5 separate regions of the Homo sapiens genome follow, and all the other regions are linked to region 2. Evidence: fine-mapped expression QTL. A gene starts in region 2. Each other region holds a variant in brackets. All regions are shown on one strand. Distances are from middle to middle.

Region 1 (5,102 bases), 220 kb before region 2:
CAGCCCTATTGAAAGGCTGGGACTTCGAGACACAGACCCTGAGGGCCAGTTGCCAAGTTGAAGGCAGCCCAAGGCTGCCAGCTTTCACCTCTTTAGTTCTGGCCTTGGCAGTAATGAGGTGAAGGGCCGGGACTTTTAACTGGCTAGGTCAAAAAGGTTTCCTTATTAGACAAACAGTGCGGGCTGGGGGTGGGGGGTGCATTGGTGTCTAAGCTTAGAACCGATAGCTTCCAGAAAAAGAGGCAGAGCCAGAGGTCTGTCTCCTCACACACCTGCCTCTCCTGCCGAGCCAGCCCCTGGATCTTCACCTCTGTCCCAGCCTGCTCCTGCCCATCCGCACCAGGCTTGAGGAGGGGACTTGAGGAGGTGTCAAGAGGGCCAGAAGAGGGCCCAGCGAGCTATGGAGTGACACAGAGTGGGCTGGGGAGGAAACTGCCCTGAGGCTGCTTCTTTTTTTTTTGAGACAGAGTCTCATTCTGTTGCCCGGCTGGAGTGCAGTGGCATGATCTTGGCTCACAGCAACCTCTGCCTCCTGGGTTCAAGTGATTCTCCTGCCTTAGCCTCCTGAGTAGCTGGGACTACAGGCACACGCCACCACGCCCAGCTAATTTTTGTGTTTTTAGTAGAGACAGGGTTTCCCCATGTTAGCCAGGATGGTCTCGAACTCCTGACCTTGTGATCCGCCCACCTCGGCCTTCCAAAGTGCTGGGATTACAGGCGTGAGTCACCGTGCCCAGCCGAGGCTGCTTCTTGACCTATAGGTCAGCGCCTGTGATAAGGCAAACTTGGGGAGAACAGCCCTGTCCGGTGGGTAGACAGCCTGCAGCAGTGAGCGCCCCCTTTCCTGGGTGGCGGCAGAACAGCTCCGTGCGCAGCTGCTGTCCCCAGCACTGCCCTGGCATCAAAGGCCCACACCCTGCTTGTGTCTCTAAAGCTGTTTGTCAACCAGTGCTCTACAAAGACCTCAAGTTTAGAAGCTGGTGCCTGGGGGACCAAAAGACAGGGTGTAGGGGGTGTAGCGGAAGAGGATTCCCAAGCTGAGTGAAAGGATTTCCTATCCCCTCACTCACACATCTCAACCAGAACAGCTTCTTTTTATTGACTTGCCATATCTTCCATGTAAGATTTCATCCAAGGAGACAATTACAGAAACCAGAGAGTTGAAAAAGCACTGTCCTACAAGGTGAGAAGGTGCTCTGGAGGGGAGACTCATACTTCTCTAGTTTCATAACAATATCTTTGCACAGTTAGCATCCAAATATAATTCATTAAAGAAGTGCTTCTTAAACACCTTATTCACATGGCCACTAGTTCCACAGAGTATTGGCGGCTTGCAAAGAGATGCATGCACTAAAGCAGGAGTAAGTCCAAATAAGAATGAATAACTAGGATCACAGAAAATATACACGAAATGAAATCAAGACTAGGGAAGAGAAACACACATACACGGGGGATAAAGTCCTGCATATTTGCTGTTATTGGACTCCAGATTGGCTTCTGAGCTTCCCTGAAGGCAAATCTGGAGAGGAAAAGAGAGAGGAAAAAAAGGAGACAGACAGACAGATGTCTGGAATCTAATTCTCTTTACCAGAATGAAGGAAATATACCAGCGTGTCAGGCTAAGCAAAATTTTTTCCAGCTGTAAGTTTTAGAAGAAATTTCTCACAATGAAATTCGTATAGGCAGTGCTGAGTAACAGGATTGGCAATGTCTTTAGTTGACACCCTACAGTAATAAGACTCCGTTGATGAGGGTACAAGATAAAATGGCCCAAAAGAATGGTCTTGTATCACTTTAGTTTGATCTAAGCATAACCCATCCATTTTAGTTTGGGTTCCCCTAGAAGCAGACCTGGAGAAAGGGATTCAAATACAAGTCATTTGTTTGATCCCAGTAAACACTAGTAGGAGAGTGGGCAAGTGAGACAGGAAAGGAAAAAAGGCCCCCAAAAAGGTGTGTTACCAAGCTAGTTCCTACTAAGGGAATTAAAGCTCATCCCCACTGAGGAATTCTGGGAGTGTTGAACAGCCTCTGAATCATCCTACCTGAGGCGGGGAGGGAGCTGGGGCATATATACCAACTCCCATCAATCAATGGTTGAGGGCTGCTCTAGGAGCATGAATTCCCCGGTGTGTCTGGTTTACCACATATGTGGGCAAAGCAGGCTGCAGCAGGCAAAGAAAGGCCTCAGGCAAGTGATATAGAAGCTGGCAGTCGGAATGTCAGCCAGCATGCCCCGAAATGGTACAGGCCAAGGAGGTGCCGACAGGATGCTGACAGCATCACATCAGCTTGGGGACCCATGGTGACACCCTAGCAGGAGCAGCCCCAGGACACAGAGGTTGCAGCGAGCCAAGATCG[C/T]GCCACCACACTCCAGCCTGGGCGACAGAGTGAGCCTCCATCTAAAAAAAAAAAAAGAAAAAGAATGACATTCTGGTTTAGAGTTTTTATAATACTTTTATAATTTAAAAATTTGGAAAATGTTTATAACGACATTTCTGCCAGGAAATACTTCCTGTGGACTTTGATTTTCATGGCAGTATCAAAATGCGTGTTTTATATGTACATCAGCAACTAGGGATCTATACTCTTCATATGTGGTCCACTTCCTGGCCCCTTTGTCAAGGCCAACGAGAGGTGAGGAAAAAACCTCAATCTGGCCGGGTGCAGTGGCTCATGCCTGTAATCCCAGCACTTTGGGAGGCCGAGGCGGGCAGATCACTTGAGGTTAGGAGTTCGAGATCAGCCTAGCCAACATGAAGAAACCCCGTCTCTACTAAAAATAGAAAAATTAGCCGGGCGTGGTGGTGCATGCCTGTAATCCCAGCTACTCGAGAGGCTGAGGCAGGAGAATCACTTGAACCTGGGAGGCAGAGGTTGCGGTGAGCCGAGATTGCACCAATGCACTCCAGCCTGGGCAACAAGAGCAAAACTCTGTCTCAAAAAAAAGAAAAACAAACAAAAAACAAAACAAAAAAACCCCCTCAATCTTCTATTGGTTTAGACAGATTCGTTCACAACCACAGATAGTAAATCAATGATCAATAATGGAGTGGCTGAGCTTGAAAACTCCAATTGCTCCCCATGTAAAAATATCGACCTGGGGAAAAAAATGGGTTAAAAGAGAGCGTGCGCAATTTTATTAAATACAAATTACTTCACTTTATTCCTGTAACAGAAAGAATATTCCATATCATTAAATGCTGCCCCTAAAAGGTGAGTAAGAAGAAAGCAAAAAGAAGTTGGAGGGTCTTCCTCCAGTTAGAGTAGAGTTTCTGAGCGTTGGACTGTTATCGAGGCGCTGAACCTTGCACTGGCTGTTGTCCGGTTTCTCTCCAAAACCTGGTTGAGACCACCGGTATTTGAAAAAGTTGGGGTAAGGGGCATTCTGGTCACTGATACTATGAACCTAACCCAAGTATGAAGCCTAAGGTATTCTGCTTTAATGGGAAGGGTATGAGCCTTATAACCTCCACCTTCTGGCTGTGTGGCCTTAGCAAAATCATTTAACCTTTCTGTTCTGTCATTTGTTAAAAGAAGATAGTAACAACTTCCTTACAGGCTGTTAGGAGAGTTAGAGATAATGCATGCAAAATGCTGGCCCTGTTTCTGATATGTAGTAAAGGCACAGTAAAAGAAACTATGATTATCTAGTAAGACCCATCTCTACAAAAAATAAAAATAAAAAAATAGCTGGTCATGGTGGTGCATGCCTGTAGTCAGCCACAGCTACTCGAGAGGCTGAGGTGGGAGGATCGCTTGAGCCCAGGAGTTCAAGGCTGCAGAGAGCTATGGTCACACCACTGCACTCCAGCCTAGGAGACAAAGTGAGATCCTGTCAAAAAAAAAAGGAAGATGAAGAAACTGATTTTCATCACCAAATGAGGAGTTCTTTAAATGGAGATGGGATACATCTTCTGTTTGACATGACATAGGAGTATAATCAGGGGACCTTGGGTTCAGATATCTAATCATGCTCAAAAAGACTTAAAGTTATAAATCAATCTAGCAATTCAAGAGTACATTTACAATTAACTTTCCTCAAAGAGCCATCAGAGCATTGCTCCAAGCTAGATATTCTAAGAGAACATTTTTGAGATCTTTCTATGGCTGTGTATGGTCGTTGGCTGGCAACATTCCCCTCTGAACATCAAGGCCCAAGTAATTTGGATCATTCTTTATGGCCAAGCTTTTCAAATAAAGTTTCTATATCCTGAGGGAAACATCCAATATGCCACAGGGTGTGTGAAGCCACAGGATAAAAATGGCTCTTAAGAAAGAGGATCCTTTTGGTTAAAGACCTTTAGGGAAAACTTTAAGTAATTTAACAAGTAATTTATCAGAAGTATATTATAGATTATAAAAATATTTTAAGATGAAATGTGAGAATTTGAAGGAATTTCATGCTCATGGCCAGCGACATCCGGCGTGAGTCTCAGGCTCTTGGGGCTGAGCAGAAGGTTCTCATTATTGGAGGGCAATTGATCCCGGAAAATGGCCACTTACAGTGAATCCACTAAAAACGGGAACCAAATATTTCATAGTAAATAATAGCGAGAAAAGTGTCTATTAGAATTTTATATTGCAAATTAAACCCCCAAAAATATGTAAAGCAAGCTGCTTACGGCAAAGAACCCCACCCTTCCTCAAATGACTTAGATTAAGACTTTACCTATGACAAGGCCAGTCACAGACCCTCCAGAGTCCCTTGCTCTGCCTCATCAATGATTAGCTAAGCTGCTTGTCTCCACGGATCAATTGGGACAAAATGCTTGTAACCAAACTTCATTGAAGAGTTTCTTTTTCAAGGCCCCTGGACTTTGGGCACCCTCAGCCTGAGCCAGCAAACAGCCCTTCCTGACAAGAGGCAGGCCTCTGGGTCAAACAGCCCCTGCCTCACTGCCTGACCCTGCTGCCCCATCACCCACCCCCTTCCCCACACCTGCTTCTTTCTAGCCTTGTTTACTCTTCCCTAGAAAGGAAAAAAATTCCTGTCTGCCTTATTCCTAAGAAGCTTTCAGAAGGATGGTCAGGGCCTTCTCCCTATTGCAATAGTCCCTTCCCCTCCCCCAGCCTTGCAATAATTCTCTTTGGATAAAAGT
Region 2 (5,095 bases):
AGACTCTGTCTCAAAGAAAGAAAAAAAAGGGCGGGGGGGGGGGGCTCCTATCCCCAGGCTCTTTCACACTGTCCAGTTTTGTCCTATTAACAGTACTTGGCCGGGCACGGTGGCTCACGCCTGTAATCCCAGCACTTTGGGAGGCTGAGGCGGGCAGATCACGAGGTCAGGAAATTGAGACCATCCTGGCTAACACGGTGAAACCCCGTCTCTACTAAAAATACAAAAAATTAGCCAGGCGTGGTGGTAGGCCCCTGTAGTCCCAGCTACTTGGGAGGCTGAGGCAGGAGAATGGCGTGAACCTGGGAGGTGGAGCTTGCAGTGAGCCGAGATCGCACCACTGCACTCCAGCCTGGGCGACAGAGGGAGACTCCGTCTCAAAAAAAAACAAAAAACAAAAAACAAAAAACAGTTCTTAATCATTATCTTGTTTACCTCATGTACCCCATTTGAATATACATTTTATGAAAGAAGAGGCCTCGTTGTCTTGCTTAGAACTAATAGCCGCTGGCACATGGAAAATGGAGACCTGGAAAGGTTAAGAGACTTTTCCAAAGTTGCACAGCTAGTCAGTGTTGGGGCCCGACTTCATGGCTCTCAATTATGGGCTCTTTTTGTTAAAACATAGCTACTTTGGCAGGGTGCGGTGGCTCACGCCTGTAATGCCAGCTCTTTGGGAGGCCCAGGCGGGCGGATCACGAGGTCAGGAGTTCGAGACCAGCCTGGCCAACATGGTGAAACCCTGACTCTACTAAAAATACAAAAAATTAGCCGGGAGTGGTAGCAGCCGCCTGTAATACCAGCTACTCAGGAAGTTGAGGCAGGAGAATCGCTTGAACCTGGAGGCAGAGGTTGCAGTGAGCCGAGATCGCGCCATTGCACTCCAGCCTGGGGGACAGATCCTAAGTCTCTCCTAATAATGCTTTCTGCATCACACACACACACACACACACACACAAAGTAGTCCTTTTTTTTTTTTTTTTTTTTTGAGATGGAGTCTCGCTCTGTCACCCAGGCTGGAGTGCAGTGGCGCGATCTCAGCTAACTGCAAGCTCCGCCTCCCGGGTTCACGCCATTCTCCTGCCTCAGCCTCCCAAGTAGCTGGGACTACAGGCGCCCGCCACCACGCCTGGCTAATTTTTTTGTATCTTTAGTAGAGACGGAGTTTCACCACGTTAGCCAGGATGGTCTCGATCTCCTGACCTCGTGATCCGCCCACCTCGGCCTCCCAAAGTGCTGGGATTACAGGCATGAGCCACCGCGCCTGGCCTAAAGTAGTCTTTTATCCAACTCCTAATCTATATTTCTGGTAGAAGTAATCCAAAAATCAAACTAACACATGGTACACTTTGTTATTGACCAAAAACTGACTGTAAATTGCATCTTGTTGCTAACGTTGAGAATGGCAAAAACTGTCCCACACCCATGAGATCTGTCTGAAAACCTAAACTCAAATCACTGGCAAAATAAATGTGTGGCTGACTGAAGCGATGTAAGTACCAACTCTTTTTTTTTTTCTTTGAGACGTAGTCTCGCTCTGTCGCCAGGGTGGAGTGCAGTGGTGCGATCTCGGCTCACTACAATACTCCGCCCGCGTTCAAGCGATTTTCCTGCCTCAGCCTCCCGAGTAGCTGGGACTACAGGCGCGGGCCACCACGCCCGGGTAATTTTTGTATTTTTAGTAGAGACGGGGTTTCACCATGTTGGCCAGGATGGTCTCGGTATCTTAACCTCGTGATCCGTCCACCTCGACCTCTCGAAGTGCTGGAATTACAGGCGTGAGCCACCGCGCCTGTCCGTAAGTACCAACTCTTCACAAAATTTAGATCTGTTAAATAACACCAGTGAAAAACGGGCTAACCAGAAACAATGGTCACCAAAGAAACCCTCAACAGCAGAAGTTACAAGTAATAATTTTATATGGCAAAAAAAAAAAAAAAAAAAAAAAAAAAGAGAAACGAAACCCTGGGAGACGAATCATACTGCAAATCATATCCCTGGGTAGCAGGGCAGAAATACAGGTAAACAAAATAGAGAGGAGGGGGATGCCTCTAGCCCGGAAATAAGTGGGTGGTGGAGATGGTTCTTCTGGCCATATTCGTTTACCTTTTTTGTCAGCAGAAAAGTACTGAGTCTACAAAGTAAAAAACTGACCACGATGAAAATTTCTGCAAAGTAATTAAAATGGGAGAAAAATGGAAATGGCTTAAATACTCGGTATAAAAAATCGACCAAGGAATCAAATGGGCTCACGGATTTGCGTCAGAAACGTTGCTTCCCCGATAATTGGTCAACGTCGGTGTAACTATGATTAAAATGTCAGTATTCAAACAAGGGCTCCAACACTACCGTGGCCCAAGGGCGTCTTCGGCTCCCACCCCGGGGCGTGGGCCTGGGGGTCCCTCTTCACTGCGCAGCCACCTCTAGCCCGCCGCTTTCGGGACTCTCAGCCTTCTTTTCCCTTCCCTGAGGGCCGGCCGGCACCACAACGGGGCCAAAGGCAGTAACTCGGTTGAAAGGCGCGCCCTGGGACAGGTCAGCGGGCTCCGCCATGCGCGGCACGCATCCCGCAGGAGCGGGTGCCAGAGCAGGGTAGGCCGGGAGTTAGCAGCCCAGCCAGGCCGCTGGACTCGGGCTAGGGGCGGGGCCAGCGCAGGGGGCGCAGGCGCACACCGCCTCCGCGGCAGCATGGCGGACGCAGCTCCTCAACTAGGCAAGAGGAAGCGCGAATTGGACGTGGAGGAGGCCCACGCCGCCAGCACAGAGGAAAAGGAGGCAGGAGTTGGAAATGGTACCTGTGCTCCTGTCCGCTTACCGTTCTCCGGCTTCAGACTGCAGAAGGTGCTGAGGGAGTCTGCGCGGGACAAAATCATTTTCCTACACGGGAAGGTACCAGGAGGCAACCCTGAGGTGGGATGCGGGAAGCAGTGAACCAATCATCGCCTCGGAGGCAGATTTTTTTTTTTCGGATCTCGGCTGGAAAATACCAATCATTATCACTCCGGGGAGGCGGGAGTGCGCCACTAGAATGCATAGAGGGGCGGTGAAAGGCGGCAAGATTGCCTTTGAAATTAAGGCAATGAACACATCTAGCTCTAATTTTTCTAATGTCTCCACTAGAAATATCTACTGGGAGAGTGCATTGCAGATTAAAGATCACATGTTACATTCCCCAAGCCATTCATCATCCATTTATGTATACAGGGACTAGGAACCCAGTCAATGTTAGATGTCTCGCTCATCCCTGTCCGTGGAAACGACATGAGACTGTAGGAGATGTGATCTCTGCCTTACGCGACTTCAGCCGTAACAGGAGAACAATATATTATAATTGTTAATTCAGTTCTACGCACGCACTTTCATGCATGCCAGACACTAAACTAGGTACTGGGGATGTGGAGACGAAAGTTACCATCCCTGATCTTCAGGACTACGGAATATTTCTGGCGAGACAGATACACACAGCTTGCTCCAATACCAACGTGCTCAGCAATCTGGCAGGGGCTGAGGAGAGATGGAGACCATTCCAGGAACTAGTGAGGAGGCCTAGCCAGAGCAGATATGGGGGTTCCCCAGAAACTAGTGAGGAGGCCTAGCCAGGGCAGATAAGGGGGTTCCCTAGAACTACTAGCAGGAACTCTCACCTTTGGGAGGATCAGGGAACCTTGGCCTAGGCTTCCATGCCTCTGTGTGTATCTGGTTTTTAAATTTTTATTTATTTATTTATTTATTTTTGAGACGGAGTCTCTCCTCTCTGTCACCCAGGCTAGAGTGCAGTGATGTGATCTCGGCTCACTGCAACCTCTGCCTCCCGAGTTCAAGCTATTCTACCTGCCTCAGCCTGCCCAATAGCTGGGATTACAGGCCCCCGCCACCATGCCCAGCTAATTTTTGTATTTTTAGTAGAGATGGGGGTTTCACCATGTTGGCCAGGCTGGTCTCGAACTCCTGACCTCAGGTGATCCGCCTGCCTCTGCCTCCCAAAGTGCTGGGATTACAGGCGTGAGCCACCGCACCCGCCTTTTTTTTTTTTTTTTTTTTTTTTGAGATGGAGTTTCACTCTTCTTGTCCAGGCTGGAGTGCAATGGCACTATCTTGGCTCACTGCAACCTCCACTTTCTGGATTCAAGTGATTCTCCTGCCTCAGCCTCCCAAGTAGCTGGGATTACAGGCATCTGCCACCATGCCCAGCTAATTTTCGTATTTTTAGTAGAGACAGGGTTTCACCATGTTGGCCAGGCTGGTCTTGAACTCCTGACCTCAGGTGATCCACCCACCTCTGCCTCCCAAAGTGCTGGGATTATAGGCATGAGCGACTGCGCTGGGCCTTGTTTTTTGTTGTTTTTTGTTTGTTTGTTTGTTTGTTTTTGTTTCTTGTTTTCTGTTTTTTTGTATGCGATTCTGTCTGGTTCTCTCAGCCCAGCTGTCTTCAGTGTGCAGCACCTGTTGAAGGTGTTAGTCATGAGAGCCTTCGAGCTAGGAGTCACTTGGGAGACCTAGGTTCTGGTTTCTGTTTCAATGCTGACTGTTCATGTGACCTTGGGCAAGTCACTCAAGGTCTGTTTTTCATCTTCTGAAATGGGGAGAACTTGACAGAGGTCTTGTAAGCCTAAAATGGAAGACAACTGAGAAGCCTTGTATTCTGGGGAAGAAAGGTGTGAGAACTGCCACAAGGATTTGGGTGGAGATGCCTTCTCTGGCTGGGCATGGTGGCTCACACCTGTAATCCCAGCACTTTGGGAGGCTGAGGCAGGCATATCATTTGAGATCGGGAGTTCAAGACCAGCCTGGCCAACATGGTGAAACCCCATCTCTACTAAAAATACAAAAATTAGCCAGATGTGGTGGCATGCGCCTGTAATCCCAGCTACTCAGGAGGCTGTGGCGGGAGAATTGTTTGAGCCCAGGAGGTGGAGGTTGCAGTGAGCCAAGATCGCGCCATTGCACTCCAATCCGGGCAACAGAGCAACACTCCATCTCAAAAAAAAAAAGATGCCTTCTCTGAGAAAAGAAATGTGAAATGTGAGTGCCATTGGCTAGACTTCCCCAGAGGGAAGACTTCAGGGAAGGAAATCCCAAGTATTGGGAATTCAAA
Region 3 (5,102 bases), 27 kb after region 2:
GCCCATGGCTGACGCGAGTTAGTGGGTCAGTGGGGAGCCGGCGCGGCTGGAGCAGAGGCCCTAAGCGGGAGAGAGGCAGTGCATGAAGGTGGAAAGAGGGCCAGGGCGAGGTGACCAACAGCCTCGTAGTCCACGGCAGGAAGCGCGGGAGCTGTGGAGCAGGGGACAGTTTGAGGGTGGCAGCTCCCACCTCAGTGTGGCCCTGACTGAGGCTTTCGGTGGAGACCTGAGGGAAGCCAGGCCCCTTAGGAGTGAGTGCTCTAGGGGGACGTGGGGAGCTCTGAGAGTCCTGCAGTCAGGTTCCCATCCCTGCAGGTGCACCTCAGGAAAGGCAGGAGGATGGCAGGAAGTGAGCAGTTGGAAAATAAGCACCTGTGGATGCTCTTGCTGCTGAGGGGAGGCGGGAGGGGCTGGCTGGGTGAGACGCCAGTTTCCCTGCACCCTGGGTGGCTGGGGCAGGTCTCCCACAGGCCTCGGCAGACCAGGGCATGCTCACAGGCCGGGTGGCTTTCTGATCTGGAGCAGCCAGGAGCCCCAGGCTGGGAGCCCGGCTGGGTGACCCTGCCCGCAGAACCCGGCTGCTCTCCAGCGCCCGCTCTGCCTCTGTGCCCTGCCCATCTCTCCCCCACTCTCAGGGAGCTCCACTGCCCAACCCAGGCAACGGAGGCAACAGCGGAGAGAATCCAAGCTAGCCTGGGGGGAGCGCTTTTCTCCATGTGAGGCACTTCCTGAATCTTTCCTTCTACTGACTCGTTTAATTCTCCCAACAGCCCTGGAAGGTAGGTGCTGTTATTGTTACCCCAGATTGTAGAAGTCAGGAGACTGAAGCCACAGACAGTGTCAGTCACTAGCCTGAGGTTACGCCACTAATAAGTGCAGAGCCAGGACTTGCACCCAGGCTGACTGGCTCCAAAATCTCTGTTCTCATCCACCAAGCTCCACTGCAGATGTATGGATTTCCCTCAGGTCCACTGCAAGGGCCAAGGTGGTGCCGTTCAGTCTACTTCAAGCAGTCTCCCGCCTCTTGAGATCTTGGTGTGCCTGACCTCTGACCTCTGGCCCATGACCTATGACGCTGAGCTGTTAGAGAACAGAGTGAGAAGCAAGAAAGAGTCTTTTGCTGCTCCTCAGAGAGTTGTGAGGAGGCCTTCATGCCCCTTTTTCAGGGTCAGATCCGGGGATTCCCAGGATTGGGTGACATTTATTTAGCAACTCGTGATCCAGCTGACACGTTTTATTGAATGTAAACAACTCTGTGAGGCAGATTTGATGACCACCCTTTAATAGGTGAGGAAGCCAAGGCTCTAAGACGTTAAGCCCCATGCCCAAGGGTACACAGCCAGTATGGAGAGTCATGTGGCCAGCCTGGGGCCAGTGGCCATGTCTTCCCACTGTGCTGCTGTGCCACCCAGAGCTGAGGGCCTGGGATGTTTGATGGGACAGAAGCCACGTGCCTGGTATGTCATCTCTGTGCATCCCCACTGGGACTTGGAAGTAGAAATTGGAAGTAGCCTGTGGTGTTGCAGGAGCACTGGCTTTAGGGTGAGATGGCCTCAGTTCCAGGTTCGCCTCTGCCACGTTTCACGGTGTGATACTGGATGACTCTTTTGAGTCCCAGCCCACCCTCTTCACTGACGTATGAAAGCGGGGTTAAAACCACCTATGACCTCAGACCAAATATGAAAGTATAGGTTGATAGTTCTTAGCCGGGTTTTGCGGTGTGTGAGTGAGTATGAGGACTTCGTGGTGGTGAAATGTGCCCGCTGGGTTTTCAGCTCTCTCGGGTTTCCCTGGGAGAGCCTATCCGAACCCAGATTAAGAAAGTCAGAGGGAACCATGGGTCTTTTGAGAAAGATCCAAGCTGATTTGGAAATACCCCTAAGATCTATGTTAAAACACAATGTATACATGTTAGAGTAATGATGACAATTGTACCAGATGTTTTTAAAAATAAAGGAAAGGACTTAACCAAAACCAGGTGGTTTTGGACCAGGAAGCTAGCCTAGAGTCTGTTTAGGAAAACTGCAAGACATCCTTCTAGTTTAAAACTGTGCTTCTCACCTGGGGACACTTTTTCCTTTCAGG[G/A]GACACATTGGCAATGTCTGGAGACATTTTGGGTTGTCACAACTTGGGGAGGGTGCTACTAACATCCCAACAGAGGCCACAGGGATGCAGCTGAACATCCTTCAATGCACAGGACAGCCCCTGCAACAGAATTATCCAGGCCAAAATGTCAGTGGTGCTGAGATTGAGAAACCCTGGATTAAACATCACAGCACTTATGTGGTGTTTACTGTGTGCCAGACATTGTTTTAAGAACTTCACAGGTAATTGACTTGTTTAATCCTCCCAGCCTTATGACACAGGAGCTTTTACTATCCTCATTTGGCAGATGAAGAAGTAGGGGCACCAAGAGGTTAAACAGCTGAACCGTGCTCCCGGGTGGGGCCAAGGTCCCATTCAGAATAAGGAGCAGGCAGAGCCAGGACTTGAACTCAGTCTGGCTGCAGAGTCTGTGCCTGGAACCACTGCGCTCTGCTGCACTGCCCATCATTAAGGGGACTACTGGGCTTTAAACCATATATATATATATATATATATATATATATATTTTTTTTTTTTTTTTTTTTTTTTTTTTTTTTTTGAGATAGAGTTTCACTCTTGTTGCCCAGGCAGGAGTGCAATGGTGCAATCTGGGCTCACTGCAACCTCTGCCTCCCAGGTTCAAGTGGTTCTCCCGCCTCAGCCTCCTGAGTAGCTGGGATTACAGGCATGCGCCACCACGCCCGGTTAATTTTGTATCTTTAGTAGAGATGGGGTTTCTCCACGTTGGTCAGGCTGGTCTCGAACTCCTGACCTCAGGTGATCCGCCTGCCTCGGCCTCCCAAAGTGCTGGGATTACAGGCGTCAGCCACTGCGCCCGGCCTTTAAGCCATATTTTCAGCTTTGGGTCCAGAAAGCCACATACCTAGAAATTTGGTATGTGAGAAGAGTTAGAGACCTCTCATTCCTGTGCCTGGAAGATGGAGCAGGAAGGGCTGGGGTTTGCCTGATGAGGGGCCCAGTGACCCACAGGTAAGAACCTTGTGTTTTCCAGATTCTGAGTGTGGCTCAGCTCGTGAATGCAGTGGCACAAGGCACTCTGTGGGAGTGGATCTTGGGTGCATGATCCTCTTGGATTTTGGCTTCCCTCAGGGAATCAAAGCCAGGGTGGGAGTTCTCTCCTCACCGTGGTGCCTGTGGCATAGAGAGTGGGCATTGCTTCCCTGTCACGGGCTGTGCTGTATCATTGCAGATGTAAAGACGACCGTGGTTTACCCTGCCACAGAGAAACACCTGCAGAAGTACCTGCGCCAGGACCTCCGCCTGATCCGAGAGACGGGAGATGACTACAGGAATATTACTTTACCCCACCTGGAGTCCCAGAGCCTCAGCATCCAGGTGACTGGCTGCATGTCTCAGACGCAGAGCACTGCTCCCGTGGCTGGTGCCTCCTCTTACGAGTGTCTATTGGGGTCATATTAGGGGCCAGGCGCTGTGCTGGGCGAGGGGATGGGGGTACAGTAGAGAGCATGGCGGACAGAATCCCCACCTCGTGCAGCTTACATCCCATGCACAGTCACACGGTGTGTGACCATACACAGATATCTCAGGATCTATGTGCTCTGTGAGATAATGAGGGCTGCAGAGAGAAATAGACAGGATAAGTGGGACCAGAAGGCCTGGGGCGGGCAATTGCCATTTTATATCGCATGGCGAGAGAAGGCTTTGGGGGTGGGGGAACTGATGCTGGTCTTGGTCCCACCTGATGTGCTTGGGCATGCCATGGAGGCTCTCTGGGGACCTCAAAGCAATCCAGTCCTTTGGAAGAATGTGTGTCTGCTCTGCAGTAGCCTTGATCCAGCCTCGGGATGACTGTGCCATTGCTTTGGGTCCATGAATGGGTAAAAGGCTGATGTTGAGTGAGTCCCACCCTGTCCAGACTCTTATTCCTGGTTTCACCTGCGGCAAACCGGCCTGCAGGATCTCAGTCTCAGAGGAAAAACTCTTCCCTCACCGACTCCCCCTTGCATTCGTCCAAAAGAAGGCAGGACCCCATTGGCCCCGGGGATTTGGTGCAGGGACTCCATTCACAAGCTGGCAGTCGTCTGGCCAGGCCAGATGCAAGGCCATTTAGCTCCAAGATCCTGACTCCTCCCTGGGCCTAGGCCCAGCGCCAACTGGAGCCTCTGCCTGGAACTGGCCCCATGTGAGTACTCAGAGTTAAATATGACTGATGCTTATTGATGAGTCAGTTTCTTGCCCACTCACTGACTCTGACACTGTGCCTTGTCTTTATCACTCACCCTTGTTCTCTTCGAGCATTTCTCACTTTTCTCCCCAAGATTCAGGTCACTGTGGTGGAGGGTGTTGTGATGTGAGGAACTCACAGCCACTCCTCCCTGGCCCAGAAGAAGGGAGGGTACGCTGTGTGTGTGGGCACTGCAAGGTGAATTGTACTTGACAGGAGTAAGGAAAGGGAGGCTGACAGGGCCTGCAGGAATGAAGTTTCCTTGGGAGACCTGTGTGCCGCCAGCCCCCTTCCCCAGCCTGGTTCAGCCCTGGTCTCCCTGGGCAGCAGTTTGCGTGGGGTGCATCTGGCTCAAGCTGACTTGTTTGTTGTTGTTGTTGTTGTTTGTTTGTTTGTTTTTAAAGTCCCAGCACTTGTTCTGTTTTCCAAGTGAAAAGGAACTATATCTCCACCTTCTTAGAGTTTCTGCTGTTCAGGGTCCTAGGGAATCTCCTGGAACAGTTGTTCTGTTGTGCTGGTTGTGCAGACCTGAGATTCAAGTAAGGAAGCCCTGATGTGGTTGGTGTGAGTAGCTGGGATTACAGGTGCTTGCCACCATGCCTGGCTACTTTTTTGTATTTTTAGTAGAGATGGGGTTTTGCCATGTTGCTCAGGCTGGCCTCGAACTCCTGAGCTCAGGCAGTCCGCCTGTCTTGGCCTCCCAAAGTGCTAGGATTACAGGTGTGAGCCACTGTGCCTGGCCATGTATATTCCTTATTATATACCATTATGCAGTTCCATTCGGAGAAGAGCACAATGAAAACTCCACTAC
Region 4 (5,102 bases), 51 kb after region 2:
CCTCTGGTTGCCTTGGTCCCACTTTGGCACAGTTAACATCCAAAAGAAACAGTCCCCATGGGCCAAAGCCCTGCTTATCCCATCCTACTGCCTCTTGCTGAGCCGCTCATCATGTGTTGTAGTTGCACCAAAGGGGGGCCTGGGGCCAAAAAAGCACATGGAGAGGAGAGAGGAGAGAAGAGGAGAAGGAAAGATGGAAAGACAAGAAAAGAGAGAGAGAGAGGAAGGAAGGAAAGAAGGAAGGAAGAAAAAAAAAGAAAGAAAAAGAAAGAAGAGGAGAAGGAAAGATGGAAAGACAAGAAAAGAGAGAGAAAGGAAGGAAGGAAAGAAGGAAGAAAGGAAAGAAAAGAGAAGAGGAGAAGGAAAGATGGAAAGACAAGAAAAGAGAGAGAGAAAGGAACGAAGGAAAGAAGGAAGGAAGAAAGGAAAGAAAGAAAAAGAGAAGAGAAGGAAAGATGGAAAGACAAGAAGAGAGAGAGAGAAAGCAAGGAAGGAAAGAAGGAAGAAAAAGAAAGAAAAAGAGAAGAGGAGAAGGAAAGATGGAAAGACAAGAAAAGAGAGAGAAAGGAAGGAAGGAAAGAAGGAAGGAAGAAAGGAAAGAAAAAGAAAGAAGAGGAGAAAGAAAGATGGAAAGACAAGAAAAAGAGAGAGAAAGGAAGGAAGGAAAGAAGGAAGGAAGAAAGGAAAGAAAGAAAAAGAAAGAAGAGGAGAAGGAAAGATGGAAAGACAAGAAGAGAGAGAAAGGAAGGAAGGAAAGAAGGAAGGAAGAAAAGAAAGAAAGAAAAAGAGAGAAGAGAAGAGGAGAAAGGCACCAGAATTGCTTCCCTCCTGCCCCAAAGATGACATGGCTTCTAGGCAGTGAGCTAAGCTTGTGGCCATGCTGTTAAGAAACTGGAGGGAAAAGATCATCATGAGTAAGCACATTGTGGCCTAACCTGAGGGGAGCAGAATTACGGTTAGCTTCTGGGCACCTAGTAACCAGGCTTGGGATAAGCTGGGGGAGAGGCCTGAATACAGCTTATAGGTTAGAAAAGGCACGCCACCTGCATAGTAACAGCACACACTTATATATAGCAGGTTATGCTTTCAGACCAAATTCGCATCCATTGCCTGATTTAATGCCAACAATAGCCCTTTGAATAAGCAGTTATTTCCTTTCCCCTCCCCCCACCCCAGTAAGAAAACTAAAGCTATTTAGTGGCAGAGACAAGAGTTGGAACTCAGGTCTCCAGGAACAAATGCTGGTTCTTAAGTTCCATTTTCTGGTAGAGTGACATTTACGTGATTCACGGCAAGAACTGCAAACTGTGCTTAGATCTAGTTCATCAAATGGCCAAGTTTAGAGGCTGGGCTGACGCTTGGATCAGTTCTGTCAGATTCACTTAGTTATGAAGGGCAGCTGCTTACTCCCTTTGGGCCAGTCTTCCCATCTGTAGAACAAGGAGGCTCTTCCCTCTTCCTCGACTTGCCCGAGGCAGGGACTTAGTCATTGTGTTCTTTATACCCAGCTTAATTCCAGGCCTGGAGATGGCATGCAATAAATAGTTGTTGAATGGCTCACGCCTGTAATCCCAACACTTTGGGAGGCCGAGGCGGGCGGATCATAAGGTCAAGAGATCGAGACCATCCTGGCCAGCATGGTGAAACCTCGTCTCTACTAAAAATACAAAAATTAGCTGGGCATGGTGGCACGCGCCTGTAGTCCCAGCTACTCGGGAGGCTGAGGCAGGAGAATCACTTGAACCCGGGAGGCAGAGGTTGCAGTGAGCCAAGATCACGCCAGTGCACTCCAGCCTGGCGACAGAGCGAGACTCTGTCTCAAAATAATAAATAAATAAATAAATAAATAAATAAATAAATAGTTGTTGAATGCATGTCTGACTGATTAAGCCAAAGGCACCATATTCAAACAAAATCAGACACTGGTGCAATGCCAAACAGCTTCTGCCCGTGCAAGGAATGATTTAG[C/G]ATGGAGCACAGTCACCTGCAGAGGAACAACTTGGAGGCAGACTCTCCTTACTCAGCTCACTTGGAGCAGAGCTTCCTGAGTTGGGGGTTCTTGACAGATAAGCCCTCCAGCTTCAGCAGAAGCAGGCTTGGAGCTGCCACTTCTCTGAACCCCCTTGCACTTACTGTCAGTCACTCACACCTTGCACTTATTCACATCCTATCCTGCCTCGTTCTTGAATGGAGTCCATGGTGAGCCTTCTCTGTGCCGCTGGATGGTAAGCTTCCTGGGGACAGGGAATGGGTCTGATAGTTTCCTTGGAGCCCCTGGCGCTCCCGGCACTGGGCTGTTGATACGTGGGGCTCCGGAAACACTGTGCTGACCTGTGAAAGGGACTGGCCTAAGGGGCTGTGGATTGTCCTGTAGGGTGACTTCTGAACTGTTCTTCAGCCTGGGCAGTTCCCAGGTTTATTTGGGGGGATGCCTGGGTCCAAAGAACCAGGGTCAGGGGCCCAGGGGTTTCTTCCTGGAGACAGGATGCCTGGCGCCTTCAATAACGGAAAGGAAACTGAGAAACTTTCTGAGGCCAAGATAAAGAGTATGCAAGTGAGGGGTGCAGAGAGAGCAGTTTAGGGGCAGCAGGCCCCAACCGAAGCAGAGGAAGGGCCCACGTCTGGGCCCAGGGGACTGACTGGCTGCCTTGCGTGCATGGGGCACGGGAAGCATAGGCTCCCGGAACAGGACCCTGCCCCAGTTTCCCCAGTGAGGGAAGGACACCGTTCCCCGTGGGATAGAGCACTGCACCCTTTCTTGATTCTCATTGTTCCCGGGAGCGAGCGCCTTGGCTGCGCTGGGCATACCCACCCTGGCGCCATTCACAGGCAGTGCCTGCCCTGGCCCTGTGCTCACCCCATCAGGCCTCCTCTTCCGCCTCTCTGGCACCCACGGCGCCCCTGCTTGCCTCTGTCCGGGTCTCGGAGGCGCGAACACCATCCCAAGCCTGCGACCGCGCGGCATCACCCCCGCCCTTCCCCCTCCTCCACCCCGCCCTTTCTACCCCTCCCGGGAGCTCCTGGGAGTCGGGCCGCCGTGTGCGCAAGCGTGTCCAGCCCCTTCCCCGCCCCCAACCCGGGCCCGGGTCCCCGCCTCCCCTGCAGGCGGACTCGCCCGCTCCCAGGCCGGACCCGCGCCCGGGACAGGGACCCGGCCGAGTCGAGCCGTCGCGCCAGCGCTGCGCCGCCGGTCGGTGCGCCTAGCGGATCGGAGCTGCGCGCGGAACCGTGCTGCCCCGCCCCGCTCCACCCGTGAGGGTGAGTACGCGGCGGCGGTGCGCGGGGGCCCGCGGGGCGGGGCGGGGCGGGGAGCCGCGGGGTCCTCGGCCGCCTGACCCCAGCCGGCGCCGCGCCTCCCGGAGGGGGTCGGGCCCTGCACGTGGGCGCAGCGCGGGTCGGGGTGGGGCTGCCACAGCCCTGCGGAGCTGCTTTCCGGGGTCCCTTTCCCTGGACCAGATTTTCGCGGGAAGCCGGATCCTCTCCGTTCCCTTGGAGTGAGCAAGCGGGACAGTTCTGCGGAAAGTTTCCGCCCCCAATCCCCCAGCCCTGCGCCCGGACTGAAGCGGCGGCCCCCACCTCCAGCATCCTCGAGCGATGGTTTCTCCCACAACTACCCCGGTCAGGTCCAGCACTTGGGAGCTGACTGTGCTGGAGGTGACAGGCTTTGCGGGGTCCGCCTGTGTGCAGGAGTCGCAAGGTCGCTGAGCAGGACCCAAAGGTGGAGTTGTCAGTGGGAGGCCGGCTGTGCCCAGGGTCCTAGGGCCACGTTATGGGGGTCGTCAGGCCTAGGCCACTGTGCCTCAGGGCTGCATGGGTGGTGAGCAGTGGGAGGGATGCGATGGGGGGAGTGGGCTCAGCTGTCTGCTGTGGGTGTTTCCTCGGGGACCTGGCTGGCAGGGACCTCCCGGCCAGCCCAGAACTGCCAACATGTCTGCCAGCACTGCCCCTCCATTCCCAGTCCTGGGGGGAGGCTCTGTCTGGGCAGCTTGAGGCCTGACCTACTGTGGCTGCTTCCTCTGCTCCCCAGCCTGGGTCCTGAGGGCCTGGCTTAAGGGAACTGCTGCCAGAAGGCTGGGAGTGTAGGCAGTGTTCGGGTGCCCAGCTGTGCCCTGTCTGACCTCATGGCCACCCACAAGCTGGCACCCCCCACAGGCCTCTTGGGGAAGCCTGTACTTTCCACCGCCGGAGGCGGGTACCGCGTGGAAGCCAGGCTCAGGCGGACTCATTCTTTTTGAACTTTGGGAACAGGCCTGGTACAGGCTGAGTTCTCACAAGAGACACACACCCGTGTCACTGTCTCCTGAGCTGTGCCGGACCCGTCCTACAGACTCCACCTCCTCTAGGTCCTGGCCCTGGCATCTGCCAGGGGGATTTTAAATGAGTTGATATATGCTAAGTGCTTTGAAAGGCGCCTGCACGGAGGGAGAGCTGTATAAATATTCACTATTGGTAATATTTCTCCCATGCTGTTACTCTCCAAAGCTGCCCGATAATTCTAGAGTGGGTTCCGGGGACGTGCCCGCTGTTTGGGGCCTAGAAATGAACTCGGGAGGTTGTTTTGCTTGCTGAGAGCTGGTCTGGGAATGCCCCTTGACCGTTCCCTGCCCTGCTCCTGGCCCACTCCCAGACTGCTCCTGTGCCTGGCCCCATTGCGCTGGGTGGGTGATCCTAAGCTGCCCCATGGGCCCTGGGCTCTGTCAAGACATGGGGAGCTTGCCAGGAGTTGGGGCCAGATCCCCCAGACTCCAAGATGGTAACCGAGGTTGTGAGGGTGCACATGGAAGGAAGAGTTAGAAGAGTGAATTGGAAATTGCCAGCTTGGACTTTGGGCAGAGTGGGTGTCTTTAGCTTGGGGATGGGTTGTTGTTCAGAGACAACAGGGCCGCCTTCTCTGTGAGCTGGCGGCCCAGGCTGAGGTGCCTCTGGGCTGCCTTCCCTACGGGAAGCAGTGACTGGCCCTCTGCTTCTCAGGAAGAGAGTGCCGTGCCCCCGCCAGCCTCCCAACCTCGTTAGACTCCTAGAATCCGGTTTTCTGGATAGAACTAAGAATCTGCTCCTTTCTGGACTTTTAATCCTGGAAAGGGCTCCCTTCCCCAGCAGGA
Region 5 (5,102 bases), 70 kb before region 2:
ACAGGTTTCAAAGTACAAGTGTTCTGTCTCATATGAAGACTTCAGCCTTAACATTTCTGTTAATGAGGTTGCTGTTACTTTGCTCATCTTTTACCAAGTATCTGACTTTTATTTTGCTGTACTCTATTGGCCTTGAAGGATTTCTCAGTGGCTTAGCAGTAATTGAGGTAATGAAGACACTGCCACAGGTAATTGACTTTGTTTTCTTGTGGCAGAAAAACATTTTCCATTTTTGCTATACATAGCAAGTCCCACAAAAATGAAAACTCAAACGTGATCACATAAAAAAAATTAAAGTGTGAACTAGCTTTGAAGCTCTTTAGCAATAACTGCATTTTGTTTAGGGTACATGCTAAAATTGATTTTTTTTTCCTGAAAACAGTACTCTAGAAGGAATAAAATATGGTTTGTGCTTATATGCCACTGGGGTATACATGTGAGATTGTATCATGTGAGGCATCCTTTAGGGTAAAGAAAATATGTTTCTCTGTTAGAAAACAGGATGAGTATATGATTGGATATAATGTAGGCATGCTGAGCTACGTCTCATTCAGTACCTAAATAAGAAGACCCTAAACATTCTCAGTCAGAAGCGATTGGCTATATTTAATTTTTTAAAGTAATAGTAGTTGGAATGGACCTTCAGAAAAGTTGACTGTGTAAAGAAATAAGTCAGAAAGCTTAGTATTCAGGTCTAGACATCATGAATTAACCATCTGGCAGAAATAGAATCCAGCAAAAACGATCTTACGTAATTTCCAGGACAAAATGGTAGGACAGATCTAGGCTCTGGTGGATAAGTGGTAGTGAGAAGTATATAACAAATAGTGCTTGTCACTGGAGAAAGTAGTTTTCCCAGCTTCTGAATGTAGTTGACTGCCAAGATTGCATCAATGGAGTACCTAGTTAACAAGCAGCTGTTAAGGATTACTTGGCATTACTTCAAGTAAATCTCCTTTCTAGAATGCAGGCACTTCCTTTGTTGATAGTTTTGGACTTTAAGTTTTTTTTTGTTTGTTTTGGCTGAAAAGTTAATACAGGTTTATTATTCCTCATCTAAAATGCTTGTGAGCAGAAAGAAGTGTTTTGGATTTCTAGGGGATTTTTTTGTTTTGTTTTGTTTTTAATATTTGCATTATACTTAACGGTTGAGCATCCCTAGTCCAAAAAATCTGAAATCTGAAATGTTCCATTGAGCATTTCCTGTTTAGCAATAGTGTAGTTAAGAACTTGGACTTGAGAGGCACAGTTGCCATGGTTTGAATACTGGTACTACCAAGTACCCGATCTTTCTGTGCCTCAGTTTTCTCATCTGTAAAATAAGGTAAGAACAATGCCTCGTAAGGTTATGCGGATTAATGAGTTAATGTTTATAAATAGTCCATGGCATGTAGTTAAGAGCTTGTAAACTGGCTTAGTAGCTGAATTGAGCATTGAATTCTGAAGATGTCCATCTTCAAAACTTAATAAGCATGAACTTCCCTCTACATTTTACTTTCATCTCTCTCAATATAGTGTTTTTACTTGCATGTCATCTGTTTAGATGATGGGTTTATAGAACCATATTTAAGAAAAGAACTTAAGCACCTAAGTTTTTTCCTTAAAAACAACTTAAAAAATATATTTTTTTAAGTTTTTTAAAGTTTTTTTAAAACTTAAAAAATATTTTTTTTTAAAAAAATATATTTTTTCCTTAAAAAAACTTAAAAAAATATATATCCCCAAACTAATGGATTGTCCTGTGTGTGGAAGAAGTAAACACATTCTACCCCTAGTTCACCATTCTAGAGCGTTGACTTTTAGAATCGGAAGTGAGTCACATAAGTTAAAACTTCATAAAAATATTTTAAGGACACTTAAAACCTGGCTATTGTTATAAGCAAACTGGGAAGTCGTTAGACTGTAATAAGTTATTACACTTAAGGGAAGATGGCTTAATGGTATACTTCATGTGCATCCTATATTTAACAAAATTGTTGCATTGTAGAAAAATTAAGTTTGCATCTTATTTAGGTGTTTCCTATTTGAAGGAAGATTCTGGAGAATCTGATTCTGTAATTTTGGAGTAGAGCCTAGAAACAAACTTTTTTAATTTAATGAATTAACTTTATTTTCAAGAATATATATACTTTTAACAAACATCCCAGCTGGGTGCGGTGGCTCACACCTGTAATCCCAACACTTTGGGAGGCTGAGGCGGGCGGATCACCTGAGGTCAGGAGTTCGAGACCAGCCTGATCAACATGAAGAAATTCTGTCTCTACTAAAAATACAAAATTAGCTGGGCATAGTGGCGCATGCCTGTAATCCCAGCTACTCAGGAGGCTGAGGCAGGAGGATTGCTTGAAGGGAGCAACTGCCAGGAGGCGGAGGTTGCAGTGAGCCGAGATTGCGCCAGTGCACTCCAGGCTGGGCAACAAGAGCAAAACTCTGTCTCAAAAACAAAACAAAACAAAAAACCCAGAAAAACCTACATGGTTGTGTTAAGGCAGGATTTACTGAGATAAGTGACTCATCTGTCTTCTCCTGAGCCCCAGCTTTCTCACCAACAGAATCAAAGATTTGACTGGAAACATGATCTACTTCCTAACTCACTACTGTGACTGTATTATTTCTATTTACCTTATGATTATGATATAAAGAAGAATTACACTGCGTGTGATGGACTATGGGGTGAGGATGTGAGCCTTCTGTTTACCACAAAAAATTAATTCAGAAACT[T/A]AGTGTTTTAATAAAGAAAAAGGCTTTTTTGGGCTGGGTGCAGTGGCTCATGCCTGTAATCCCAACATTTTGGGAGGCCAAGGCTGGAAGATTACTTGAGCTCAGGAGTTAGAGACCAGCTGGGCAACATGGCAAAACCCCCTCTCTACAAACAGTACAAAATTCCACCAGATGTGGTAGCATGTGCCTGTAGTCCCAGGTGATGGAGAGGCTGAGGTGGGTTGATCGCTTGAGCCCAGGAGGCCGAGACTGCAGTGAGCCAAGATGGCGCCACTGTACTCTAGCCTGGACAACAGAGCAAGACCCAGTCTCAAAAAAAGAAAAGAAAAGGGCTTTCTAATAAAACAGTAAACTTGCAGTAATTATTAGTAATTCAGTTCTATATGTTGCCAGTGGAATGTACTAAAACACCCCAAACGGTGGTAGTATGTATTGTCTTCTATATTGTGTGTGTGTTTAAAATACTATTACTATTTTTAAATTCACAGTCTTTAGATTTAACAAGTTTGCCAAAGTTTGAGCACTTAGAACTTTATAGTATTCATTCTAATCCATGGTAATTATTTACTTTTGCCAGTTATTCCAGCACCCGAACATAATTGGCCATTTTTCATACATCTTTGCTTGATGATACATTTACCAGTCATCACAGTGGCTTGATTTGAAGTCCACTTCATGTTTAGTTAGAGAGACATGCCCCACTGGCTACAAGGTCACCATCGTCCAACAACAGAGAATGTCATTCAGCAAATTAGTATTGATTGTTCTGTTCTTGACTCAGTAATTTCTTCAGCTGAGAGTAAATGGGTAATTGGGGGCTATTAATACACTTATCTATGGGTGGTTTTTATCCCCTGAGTCTTCCGCAAACCCATCTTGTGGGAGAATAACTGGTTTTTCTTAAGTTCTACAAAGTGATGGCCAGTAATTGACATGAGTTGACACTGTTTTTGGTGGGAACTTGGGGGCAGGCCTTCAGAAACAGAAGCAAGATGGTAGTATGGAGCACCAAAGTCCTATAATTTCCAGATTACTTCTTTTAGACTAATTTAATTTAGCTCCTTGTTTAGAATGTTCATTAATTAACAAATTTCTGTTAAGTAGGGGGCACCTCCAAAACACCTTTAAGGGTATACAGCTTTTTTAAACTGTTTAATATATGTGCTATTTTGAATAGTATACTTTACAGATCTAATTGTGGTTCATGGTGTTTAATCTATTTTAGAAACTGGATGGCTTCTACAGGGAGCCAGGCCTCTGATATAGACGAGATTTTTGGATTCTTCAACGATGGCGAACCTCCCACCAAAAAGCCCAGGTAAACAAGAGAAGGGAATCAGCAGAGTAAATTACCATTAGTGGGAGAGAAAGAAAAATAGCCAACTTATACCTTCTATATCAGTTGTTTTCACTAATTAGTATTGACCTTCATACTCAAAATTAAATTGTTTTTATTTTGGGTTTAATTTTTATTTTTTATCAAGGCAGTACAGGTACATAGTTTTTAAAATCAGTATTTCAAAGTCCGCCCTTCCTCAGAGATAATCACTTTCAACTTTACCTGTTTCTTCTAATGTTGACATCCATGTTTGAAAATACTATATATATTGCTGCTTTTTAGTTTTTTGGTTTTATTGATTTCTGAGTATGGAATATAAGGACTGCTTTGCTCTCATGACTCCTCCCTCTGTATTGCCACTCCACACACTCTCCCCATGTTCTTGTATGTTTGTGTCACAGTGTTTGGTTCAATCCACTTTTTTTTTTGAGACAGAGTCTTGCTGTGTCGCCCAAGCTGGAGTTCAGTGGCACGATCTTGGCTCACTGCAACCTCCACCTCCCGGGTTCAAGAAATTCTCCTGCCTCAGCCTCCTGAGTAGCTGAGATCACAGGTGCCTGCCACCATGCCCAGCTAATTTTTTTGTATTTTTAGTAGAGATGGGGTTTGACCATGTTGGTCAGGCTGGTCTCGAACCCCTGACCTCGTGATCCACCCGCCTCGGCCTCCCAAAGTGCTGGGATTATAGGCGTGAGCCACTGTGCCCGGCCTGGTTCAATCCACTTTTAATATTTACATTATTACGACTGTATAAGTAGTATTCATAGCTGAGCCTAATGCGTAACGATTATGTTTCCTTTCTTGCCCATTTTTTTTGCTTATGTCATTAAAGACTGTCTTTTTTGTTTGTTTGTTTGCTTTCAATGTATTCTCACATGCTCTGACAGAAGAATAAATCTCCTAGCTATACTGAAACACACCGATAACTTGCTGGTTTGTGTCATGGATTCTTCCTTCTGGATGCTAGTCCACTCTGGACACTTGTTCTCCAGTCCTGTTGCGTTCCTGATATTTGCTATTTCCCATTCCCATCATCCTGATA

The links. PIP is the estimated chance that this variant, and not a neighbour inherited with it, causes the effect.
Region 1: its variant is fine-mapped to the expression of DCPS in whole blood (TOPMed, PIP above 0.99).
Region 3: its variant is fine-mapped to the expression of DCPS in whole blood (TOPMed, PIP above 0.99). The same link has a PIP of 0.9 or more in blood mononuclear cells and monocytes.
Region 4: its variant is fine-mapped to the expression of DCPS in breast (GTEx, PIP 0.94).
Region 5: its variant is fine-mapped to the expression of DCPS in whole blood (INTERVAL, PIP above 0.99).

The regions. Positions count from the first base shown.
Region 1 is chr11:126,084,348-126,089,449 of GRCh38, forward strand. No RefSeq gene overlaps it. Among named protein-coding and RNA genes, the nearest start is that of CDON, 24 kb to the left of the region's middle. The variant C/T (reference allele first, on the strand shown) is at 2,362.
Region 2 is chr11:126,301,393-126,306,487 of GRCh38, forward strand. It overlaps DCPS (decapping enzyme, scavenger), which reads left to right and starts at 2,668. Exons shown (of 6, transcript NM_014026.6): 1 at 2,668-2,889. The coding sequence starts at 2,689. TIRAP-AS1 (TIRAP antisense RNA 1) reads right to left here and starts at 2,930. Exons shown (of 2, transcript NR_187388.1): 1 at 2,796-2,930. RefSeq lists a silencer at 2,626-2,755 and an enhancer at 4,414-4,703.
Region 3 is chr11:126,328,110-126,333,211 of GRCh38, forward strand. It overlaps DCPS (decapping enzyme, scavenger), which reads left to right. Exons shown (of 6, transcript NM_014026.6): 3 at 3,296-3,441. Among named protein-coding and RNA genes, the nearest start is that of GSEC, 25 kb to the right of the region's middle. RefSeq lists enhancers at 1-276, 277-999, 5,039-5,102. The variant G/A (reference allele first, on the strand shown) is at 2,086.
Region 4 is chr11:126,352,585-126,357,686 of GRCh38, forward strand. ST3GAL4 (ST3 beta-galactoside alpha-2,3-sialyltransferase 4) reads left to right here and starts at 3,102. Exons shown (of 11, transcript NM_001254757.2): 1 at 3,102-3,258. GSEC (G-quadruplex forming sequence containing lncRNA) reads right to left here and starts at 3,003. Exons shown (of 2, transcript NR_033839.1): 1 at 2,858-3,003. RefSeq lists enhancers at 1,994-2,737, 2,738-3,479, 3,480-4,223, 3,911-4,060 and a silencer at 2,941-3,320. The variant C/G (reference allele first, on the strand shown) is at 1,969.
Region 5 is chr11:126,231,049-126,236,150 of GRCh38, forward strand. It overlaps FAM118B (family with sequence similarity 118 member B), which reads left to right. Exons shown (of 9, transcript NM_024556.4): 3 at 3,947-4,039. The coding sequence starts at 3,954. It also overlaps a transcript of SRPRA not described here. Among named protein-coding and RNA genes, the nearest start is that of FAM118B, 22 kb to the left of the region's middle. RefSeq lists a silencer at 732-932. The variant T/A (reference allele first, on the strand shown) is at 2,722.